3 linked regions of the Homo sapiens genome follow. The protein of the gene in region 1 purifies or fractionates together with the protein of each later gene. This does not show direct contact. Each region holds a gene or a part of one and is shown in the gene's direction. Other genes may lie near its edges. The genes, in order: KCNH2, RNF139 and SMAD5.

What was found.
Region 2: the proteins of KCNH2 (region 1) and RNF139 purify together in Homo sapiens (affinity purification with western blotting, with the first as the bait; one study listed by BioGRID). This does not show direct contact.
Region 3: the proteins of KCNH2 (region 1) and SMAD5 purify together in Homo sapiens (affinity purification with mass spectrometry; one large-scale study listed by BioGRID and IntAct). This does not show direct contact.

Annotation. Positions count from the first base shown.
Region 1 is NC_000007.14:150,944,307-150,947,321, reverse strand, and holds the end of KCNH2 (voltage-gated inwardly rectifying potassium channel KCNH2), read left to right. Parts: intron 1-267; coding exon 268-445; intron 446-1,807; coding exon 1,808-1,957; 3' UTR 1,958-2,361; downstream 2,362-3,015.
Region 2 is NC_000008.11:124,477,819-124,481,472, forward strand, and holds part of RNF139 (E3 ubiquitin-protein ligase RNF139), read left to right. Parts: intron 1-3,654. UniProt on the Homo sapiens protein: E3-ubiquitin ligase; acts as a negative regulator of cell proliferation through mechanisms involving G2/M arrest and cell death.
Region 3 is NC_000005.10:136,139,286-136,142,939, forward strand, and holds part of SMAD5 (mothers against decapentaplegic homolog 5), read left to right. Parts: intron 1-3,654. UniProt on the Homo sapiens protein: Transcriptional regulator that plays a role in various cellular processes including embryonic development, cell differentiation, angiogenesis and tissue homeostasis.

The DNA of each region.
Region 1 (3,015 bases):
GAGTGCAGGTGGGGTGGGGGGGCACGCCCTGGAGTCTGGTCCAGGTCCTGGCGGTGTTGTCTGGTAGAGGGAGAGGGCCTGTCTGTGTGTGCAGCAGCTGGATCCCCTTCTTCCATTCCTAGCCCAGCTGGGGGCTGCCACACCTCTAGCGCGGAGGGCCTGGGTTGACAGGCTGCCCCTCCCCCCTCCCCTTCCCCTTCCCCACTCCCGGTGGAGGCTGTCACTGGTGTCCCCACTTCTCTGAGCATCCCCCACTTCCTGCCCCAGGCTGGAGACCCGGCTGAGTGCAGACATGGCCACTGTCCTGCAGCTGCTACAGAGGCAGATGACGCTGGTCCCGCCCGCCTACAGTGCTGTGACCACCCCGGGGCCTGGCCCCACTTCCACATCCCCGCTGTTGCCCGTCAGCCCCCTCCCCACCCTCACCTTGGACTCGCTTTCTCAGGTAAGCTCCAGCCCTGCTTCCTCGATGTACCGTGACCCGCTTGTTCCCCGATTCCAGCCCAAACCTGCTTTGCTGCCTTTCTGCTGGGCTCTGTGGCCCAGCCTCCCTGAACCTTGTTCCTGCCCTCCTCCCACCCCTGTCCTCCTGGAGGAAGGCTGCTTCAGGAGCTGCAGGCTCAGGGTAGGGCAGGAGAGTCCCCCGTCCAAAGCCCCTAGACAGCTGGGTGCAGGGAACCTGTAGGCTAAGTGGCCCGCAGCTTCACTCCCCTAGTGTCCACAGCCTCCACCGCCAGGCCCCGGAGCATCGCCTGAAGAGCCAGCTCCAACGGTGGTGCCTGTCTCACGGCCACGGGTGGTCTCCAAGAACTGACTGAGCCCGAGACGTGGCGGTGGAGGCTGCATACCAGAGTATCTAGGGACAGGGTCCCGGGTCCCTTCTGTGAGTGACACTCCCTGGTCTCACCGTCCTGCCCATCCTTGCCCTTGGCAGTGGCTGTCACAGGGTCATCTTGAGGGTGCTTGGCATTTCCCAGGGTGCAGAGGCCAAGCCTCCAGGGGAGGACTTCCTGGGCCTGCTTTGCCCCCTCTGCTAGAGATGGGCCTTAGTTGCCCCTTGTCCTCTCCTGGGTGGACCTGCATGTTCCTGGCCTCTGCAGGATGGCGGTGTCTGTGTCAACCTCCGCGTCCATGGTGGGGACTCCTCTGGCTGCCAGAGGCGGCCTGGGATCTGCTCCCTCCCCACTTCCCTTGGCATCCGCTCCCCCCTCCCATATGCTGCCTGCTCCTGTTTGCAGACACGAGGGCCCACGTCAGCAAATGTGCCAGTCTCCCTTCGCAGCCGCCCCCGCAGAGCTCTCACCAGCAGACGCTCAGTACCCACAAACCCCTCCCGCCTGCCCCGGCCCTCTCCCTGGCCTTCAGATGCCTGGCCGCCAGCCTGCCTCTGTTTCTAGGTCCCCGAGTTCTTTCTGGATTGCGGGAAGGAATCTTGTCTCTTTTTCTGTCCCAGCTTCTGTCCCAACACAGAGACTGCTTGTTCCAGGTTGGGTTGGGCTCAGCGGCCACATTCCCTCGGGAAGAGACAGGGGCCTAGGGTTTTCCCTGCTCCCAGCTCTCTTGTTTGGCTCCTGCTCTCAGAGAATGCCTTTCTCTACTTCCCACCTTGGTGCCTCCCCTTGGTGGCCCCTGTCCTGCTCTCGCTGCCTTGGCTCTTGTCCCCTCCAGCTTCTCTGCCCACCTGACTCTCCTCTTGGCCCTCCTGTCCTCCCGTCCATCCTCTGTCCCCGGGTTCTCCTGCCCCTTTCCCTCCCCTTCCTCCTCCTCCATGGCCTCTTCGCCTGCCCATGCTCTGTGTGTATTGCAGGTTTCCCAGTTCATGGCGTGTGAGGAGCTGCCCCCGGGGGCCCCAGAGCTTCCCCAAGAAGGCCCCACACGACGCCTCTCCCTACCGGGCCAGCTGGGGGCCCTCACCTCCCAGCCCCTGCACAGACACGGCTCGGACCCGGGCAGTTAGTGGGGCTGCCCAGTGTGGACACGTGGCTCACCCAGGGATCAAGGCGCTGCTGGGCCGCTCCCCTTGGAGGCCCTGCTCAGGAGGCCCTGACCGTGGAAGGGGAGAGGAACTCGAAAGCACAGCTCCTCCCCCAGCCCTTGGGACCATCTTCTCCTGCAGTCCCCTGGGCCCCAGTGAGAGGGGCAGGGGCAGGGCCGGCAGTAGGTGGGGCCTGTGGTCCCCCCACTGCCCTGAGGGCATTAGCTGGTCTAACTGCCCGGAGGCACCCGGCCCTGGGCCTTAGGCACCTCAAGGACTTTTCTGCTATTTACTGCTCTTATTGTTAAGGATAATAATTAAGGATCATATGAATAATTAATGAAGATGCTGATGACTATGAATAATAAATAATTATCCTGAGGAGACTCCAGTGGTGCTGGGAGGGTGTAACTGTTACTTGCTGTGTCCTGTGTTCCTGTCTGGACATGCATAGGTGTGCCTGCACAGGAATCCGGGTCTGTCTGCATGCCCAGGCCCACAGGGCTGCCCCTGTATCCAGGTCTGGGTGTGTGCAGTGGGGGTGCTCCCTGGGGGCTGACACAGGTCATCTCCAGGGAGACAGAATCTTGTCTCTGTAGGGCCCTGGATTCAAGATAACAAAAAACCCCCTGAACCACATGCATTTAGAGGCAGTCCTGATGGGACACTGACCTGGTGTCTAGCCCCTGAGGGCCATGTGCCTCTGCTGGGTGGGGCACCCTGGCTCCCACAGCTTGGCTTCACACTGACTGTGGAAGCAGCCCTGCACTTGTCTCCCTCACCCAGTTCCTGAGCCTGCGTTGACCCTAACCTGAAATTGGTCTGAGTCCTGGCTCCCCCTGCCACCCACAACTTAGCCTTATCTTATCCAATACAATTGGGCCCCGGACACACTGGTGACTCCAGCCCTGACCAGAGCTCACCTGGTGTCTGGCTGCAGATGGACCTCACTTGTATCACCTTGGTCCCCTGTGATCCTGGATCTCAAGAGGAGCTTCCTGAAGAGGGTGCAACCTTCAGGGTGACTCATTCCCATGACC
Region 2 (3,654 bases), on another chromosome or scaffold:
AGTATTACTAATATGGTGATAATTCATTGAGGTGGGAAAAGGCTTTAAACATAACAGAAGACCCAGAAGTTCCAAGGAAAAATCTGAAAAATTTCAGTACATAAAAATAAAAAGCTTTTTTATGGCAAAGCTTAAAAAAGAATCCTTAAATGACAAACTGAGATAAAATACTTCTATCATAAGTGATTCACGTTCCAGTAAGAGTTTTACCCTGCCAGGGAAGCTGAGGCAGGAGAATCGCTTGAACCAGGGAGTTGCAGGTTGCAGTGAGCCGAGATCGCTCCACTGCACTCCAGCCTGGGGATAGAGTGAGACTCTGTCTAAAAAAAAAAACAAAACAAAACAAGAAAAAACTTATACTCCCTTAGGAAAATGCCTAAGACAAGCAATTCACAATAAACAAAATGCAGATGTTCAATAAGCAAGAGAAAAAGTATTTAGCCCTTCCTGCAGTAGCTTGATTTTATGGGGGAAAAAAAAAAGTACCTAGCCTTGTTTATAATTAAATACTGTCAAGACCGCTTACGGTGGCTCACGCCTATAATCCCAGCACTTTGGGAGGCTGAGGCAGGCAGATTGCTTGAGGCCAGGAGTTTGACACCAGCTTGGCCAAATGGCACAACCCGTGTCTACCAAAAAATTAGCCGGGTGCAGTGACTCCTGCCCATAGTCCCAGCTACTGTGGAGGCTGAGGCACGAGAATCTCTCGAATCGGGGAGGTGGAGGTTGCAGTGAGCCAAGATCGCGCCACTGCACTCCAGCCTGGGCGATAGAGCGAGACTGTCTCAAAAAAAAAAAAAAAGTCAAAAAAAATTTATCAGATTGGTGAAGAGTTCAAAGTTTTATTAGTTTTGCAAAGGTATTTACCTTTTTGAAATAGGTAAATTTATACAATTTTGGAAGACTTTTTTTTTTTTTTGAGACGGAGTTTGCTCTTGTTGCCCAGGCCGGAGTGCAATGGCGTGATCTCGGCTCACCACAACTTCCACCTCCCAGGTTCGGGCGATTCTCCGGCCTCAGCCTCCCGAGTAGCTAGGATGATTACAGGCAAGCGCCACCACCCCCGGCAAATTTTTTTCTATTTTTAGTAGAGACAGGTTTTCTCCATGTTGGTCAGGCTGTTCTCCAACTCCCGACCTCAGGTGATCTGCCCACATCGTCCTCCCAGAGTGCTGGGATTACAGGCGTGAGCCACCGTGCCTGGCCCGGAAGACTCTTAATTTCAGTGTAAAACCATTTGGCAGTATCAACTGTCATTTACAACTGACTTCTCAGTGTTTTGTTTTGTTTTTGAGACAGTCTCACTCTGTCACCAAGGCTGGAGTGCAGTGGCGTGATCTCAGCACACTGCAACCTCCACCTCCCAGGTTCAAGCGATTCTCCTGCCTCAGCCTCCCAAGTAGCTGGGATGCCTGGCTCGTACAACTTTTGACTCACAATTTCAATTCTAGGGAATTGGCCTAGAGAGATAGTTTGCTTAAGGACTATGGGCAAGCATTACTGGAAATAACAAAGCAACAAACTTAATCTAAATATGTATTGATACAAATCTGTTCATTGTATTAGGTCTAGCCATGCAATAAAGTTCTTGAAAGAAATGAGATAGCTATTTTTGGTGCCGAAAAAGACTTCAGAAAACCTCTGAAGTGAAAAAACAAAGCCGAAGTAATTATCACTGGCAGAGGAATAGACAGAGATTTCTCAACAGTGGCAGTATTGACATTTTGGACAGGATAATTCTTTGTTTGCGGATGGGAGCTCTCCTGTGCACTGTAAGATTTTTAGCAGCATCACTATCCCCTGCCCATTAGATGCCAGTAGCACCTTGCACCCCCACACCCCAGTGTGACAGCCAAAACTGTCCCTGGATATTGCCAAATCATGGTTGAGAACCATTGGGATAGACAAATAGATTAGTACTTAGCCTTATTTATAATTACATAGCCCAGAAACAGACACCAATGTATATATAGAAATAATGTGTTTCAGAGATAGAATTGAAGTACATTGAGGTAAATATGGACTGTTGAATTAATGATCATTTTGTTACACCTTTGGAAATAAATTATACTAGATGTCTACCTTATGTCAATATATAGACAGTCACTTCTAGGTTGAGCAGTGTAGTGAGACCCTGTCTCTGCAAAAATAAATATTTAAAATAATAGCCATACTTGGTGGTGGGTGCCTGTAGTCCTATCTTACTCAGGAGGCTGGGGTGAGAAGATCGCTTGGGCCTAGGAGTTCAAGGCTGCAAGTGAGCTATGATTGCATAACTGCACTCCAGCCTGGCTGGGTGACAGAGCAAGACCCTGTCTCTTAAAAAAAAAAAATAGTCATTTCTAAGTGTATTCTTACCTAGATGTATATGTAAATATGAAATGCAGAACTTTAAATTTTTAGAAAAAAATATGGAATATTTTATTTTTCCAATCTTAGATTAAGGAAGAAATCCTTAAAAATATATAAAAGCAAATACATAATGAAGATTGATAAACCGAATGATATTGAGGTTAAAAACCTATGTTAATCAAAAGATCGCACCACTGCACTCCAGCCTGGGCAACAGAGCGAGACTCCATCACTAAAAAAAAAAAAAAAAAAAAAAGGAAGTCAAATCTTGGGTAAGGGGGAACTACTGTACTTACATTTACCCATTTATTATAAAGGCAATTACAAAGGACACAGATGAATTAACCCGATGGAAGGAGATGTACAAGGTGAGACAAAGAAGGAGAGAAGAGGAGAAGGGGCGTGGAGCTTCAGTGTTCAGCTATCTGAGAGCTCACAGAACTCAGTCCTTTTGGGCTTCTATGGAAGTTCATTAAATAGGCAAGATTGATTAGATCACTAGTCATTGGTTTATGGACTCAAGTTTCAGCTTCTTTCTTCCCAGAAGTGGCGGCTGGGGGTAGGAATCAAAGTTATAACCCTTAATCACTGGGCTGATTCCCCTGGCTACCTAGCCCCCATCCTGAAGCTATCTAGGGGCCCCCAGGCACCAGTCATCTGATTATTGTACAAAACAGTCATCACTCCAGAGATTCCAAGGATTTTAGAAGCTATGTCAGAAAATGGGACAAAGACCAAATATTAATATTTTTTTTATGATATCACAGATGGGAAAGACAAACTAGAAAAACTTGCTTTAACTCTTCATTTAACACCTCTCTGTAGGGTTTGGCTTTTTAAAATCCATGTTCATATATTTTTGATAAAAGCATACTTATTATAAGTTTAGTTTAAAAGCAAAAGTTTAATTTTGTGTTAATACTTAGAATACCAGGTTTTTTTTCAACCTAAAATGAGAATCCAATAGAAATGTTTTCTTTATAATTTATCAAGTATACCAACAGATTAACAACATTTCAAGACACTTTGTTGTAAACTTCATTGCGGAAGGCTCCCTTGGGAGTAAGGTAGTAGTAACATTTATTTCTGTGCTTTTCCATATTTATTCTGTCAGGTATTGAAATGTTTTTCCACAGGTTGCTTTTTGTTTTAGAGGTATTTCGGGTACTTGGAGAATTGTAAATATTATGTTTTGTACCCTGATTTTTAGTCATAAGTTTCCAAAAGAGGGTAAGGGTATGAATAGACTTTACACATAAAAGAGTGAAACACTTTGTTATGTAACATGTATAGTAAGTTTTT
Region 3 (3,654 bases), on another chromosome or scaffold:
TTTGGGTTATTGATTCAACATGAATTCATTTGAAATAGAAGCTTTGTGAAGCTTAGCAACATTTTATTCATATGGTTAATGTGTATAAAACTTAACCCTGAATCTTCCTTTAGCTTTCTTATCTGCATTTGCCAAATCAGTTGATGTCAAACCCCATTCTTCCAGTTGTCCAGGCTGATACCTTGGAATCATTGTTAACTCCTTTGTTCTCATACACCCCATGATCTCCTTCATCAGGAAGCTTACTGTCTTTCATATGTCTGCTGCTCACCACCCCACTGCTATCACCCTGGTTGTAAGCCATCGTCATCTTCTCCCCTCCCTTAGATTACTGCATCTCTGAACTGGTCTCGCTGCTTTTATCATTGCTGTCCACCCCTCCTCCTGCTTATTCTCAACATACCAGCCAGGATTTATTTATTTATTTTGAGACGGAGTCTTGTGCTGTCACCCAGGCTGGAGTGCAGTGGCATGATCTTGGCTCACTGCTACCTTGACCTCTTGGGCTCAAGTGATCCTCCCACCTCAGCCTCCTAAGTAGATGGGATCACAGGCATGTGCCACTGCACCTGGCTAATTTTTTAATTAAAAACAATTTTTTTTTGTAGAGATGGAGTTTTAAAAACTATGTTGCCCAGGCTAGGCTTGAACCGCTGAGCTCAAGTGATTCTCCTGCCTTGGCCTTCCAAAGTACTGGGATTACAGGCATGAGCCACCACGCCTGGCCCAGGATAACTCTTTTTTTTTTTTTTTTTGAGATGAAGTCTAGCTTTGTTGGCCAGGCTAGAGTGCAGTGGTATGATCTTGGCTCACTGCAACCTCTGCCTCCCGGGCTCAAGCAATTCTCCTTCCTCAGCCTCCCAAGTAGCTGGAATTACAGGCACATGCCACCACACCCAGCTAATTTTTGTATTTTTCGTAGAGACGGGGTTTCACCATGTTCGCCAGGCTGGTCTTGAACTCCTGACCTCAGGTAATTTGCCCACCTCGGCCCAGGATAATTCTTTAATAGTGTAAGTCGAGAACTATCATGTCTGTGCTCAGAGCTCTCCACTGAGTTCACAGTTTCCTTAGAGTACTGTAAAAGCTAAAGCCTTTATATCCAGCATGGCCATTCTGGCTCTCTGGTATCTCTTTGACCCCACTCCTTACCTTTTCCCCCTCGTACACTGTGTTCTCAGGCTATACTGGTCTTCTAGCCAGTATATGCTCTTCATGCCAGAAGCATGCCAGACATGCTCCTACCTTAGGATCTTTGCATTGCCTGTTGCCTTTACCTGTAATGGTTTTCCCCTAGATATATGCCTGTTGGCTCACTCTTTTATTTCCTTAACATTTTAACTCAGTTGGCACCTTCTTGGTGAGACCCAGCCCAGCCACCCTGTTTAAAATTACACCTCTCTTCCAGGACTTCTTGTCCACCTTCCCCTGTTTTAATTTTTCTCTATAGCACTTTTCACCTAACAAACATATCATTTACTATATCTCGTTGGCCTCCTTCTGCTGGAATATAAGCTAAATGAAGACAAGTGTTTTGGTTCCTTTTATTCACTTCTATATTCCCAGCTCCTAAAATGCTATCTTAATAAATATTCTTTTGGATGAATGACTTGAATGAATTTGACAAGTTATTGTAATGTATGTGGTACTGTTTTTTAAAGATTATATTCTAGTGCGAGAGACAGAAATAAAGTAAATGAACAAATTATTATGAATCAGTTAATACAGTGAAGAAAATGAACATAGTATTGGATTAGAGATTAGGGAAACTCTATATAGGATTATGGGGTGATCAGGGAAGGTATCTGGGATGAGAGCTAAAGCTGAGACTTAAATAACGATAGAGCTAAAAATTAGTGGCCAGGGATTAAGAAAAGTGGTATAAGCAGAAAATGGCATTTGTAATATCTGAGGTTCAAAAGACATTCCAGTATAGGAAGATAAATGCTTTTGAAGAATGAGTTCTTACTAATATTTATTGGGAGCAGGAATAATGCTTCTGGAGTTTGATTTCATTGTTTTGAGGAGCAACAGCTCATTTGTAGTAACAGGACACACTGTGAAAAGTGCTAGATACCTGGATTACATGCCCTTTCTCTGTCTCTCTGTGTTCCTCTAGTAACTTGAGTTTATCTCATTGTACTTACATATAGGGGTATAGTTTGGTGTCTGTCGTGCTACGTTATTCTGTGAAGGGAGATTCTGTCCCGTTTGCATTTTTGCTATTCCCACTCTTCACTCATATAGTACCTTTGTATGGGACTTAGAAAAAGGCCTTCTCATTTATTCCTTCACCCTTGGCTAGTGCTGATAAACCCCTGCATGTCCTACAATGTCTGCTAGTTAGTAGGTGCTCAATAAGTGTTTAATGATTCATGGCTGTTATAGCTGCTGAGTCAGTTAATGCACATATACTTAAAGAAGTAGGTGTACCTTATGATAATCATTTCTGTATTTCTGTTGATTAACCTAGAGTACTATAGTTATGGAAGTATTTGTACCTAGTTTCTGATTTGATTTTTCTTAGTTTCAACCTCCAAATTTGTATAACCCCAAGTATATTAGAGAGAATTGTTTTGAAGCAGGAATGACTCATGATAATGTAAATCCTCTCTTTAGTAAGGGTTCATAATATGGCTGAGGTATAGCTGCACTTTAATTTTGAAACCTGTTTTTCCTCTGACTCTTCAAGAAATATGTTTATTTTAAAAAATATAGAATTAGATGAAGCAGAAAGTGAAAAGTACACCTAACCCCACCACCAGAGCTAATATCACAAACCCTTTCTTTCATTAAACAAATATTTATTGAGCATATGTATCACTAGGCTTACAGTGATGAGTGAAAACAGATACAGCTCTTCTCGTGGAATTTACATTCTTGTGGGGACAGATTTGAAAGGTAAATGTAAAAACATAGGTGTGGTAAGTGCTACAAAGTAGGAGTATGTGATGCGGTAAGCATATAAGAGGGGGACTTCTAGCCAGGACGGTTTGGGAAGACTTCCCCGAAGAAGGGATGCTTGAGCTGAAAGAGAGGTGAGGTGTGTGTGTGTTTTGTAATGTGATAGATTCATTTGTAATTCATGATATACCGTAATTTTATAAGGTTTTCATTTATGGCTGAGGTACCACTGCATCTCTTTTGGTACACTAATGACGTTCTGTGTTCAGTCAGTGGTTGCAGTTTTTCAGAAGAATCAGGGAACCTCACGTACACAGGAATTTCTAAATATTATGATTACCTTGGTTTTCTTTCTAGCTTTGAGGTCATTTCTCTAAGAAATGACAAAATACATCAATAAAAGGGTATTATCAAGTCAAGTCTTCATAAACCAAAGGTATACTATGAAAGGCCAAGATAATAGCAGATAATGGGTTCATAGCTGTTAAGTCCCTCCAGTTTCTAGTGTAAGAAGGAGCATACCTTCCTGTCTGTTCAATTATTGGCTCTCTGTGCTTGGTGTACATTTTTTTAAACTCAATTTTAATGCCCTATTTCTGTTGGCTATCATATGGAAATAAATATAGGATAAAACTAAGTGATAGGCTAAATGGCATATGAAACTCTTTATAGCCCCTGTTCTTTTTTCCATTACTCTCTAAGATCTTACAGAGATTATGGTTAGTGTCTTTTAAGCCTGAGTTCCTAGCA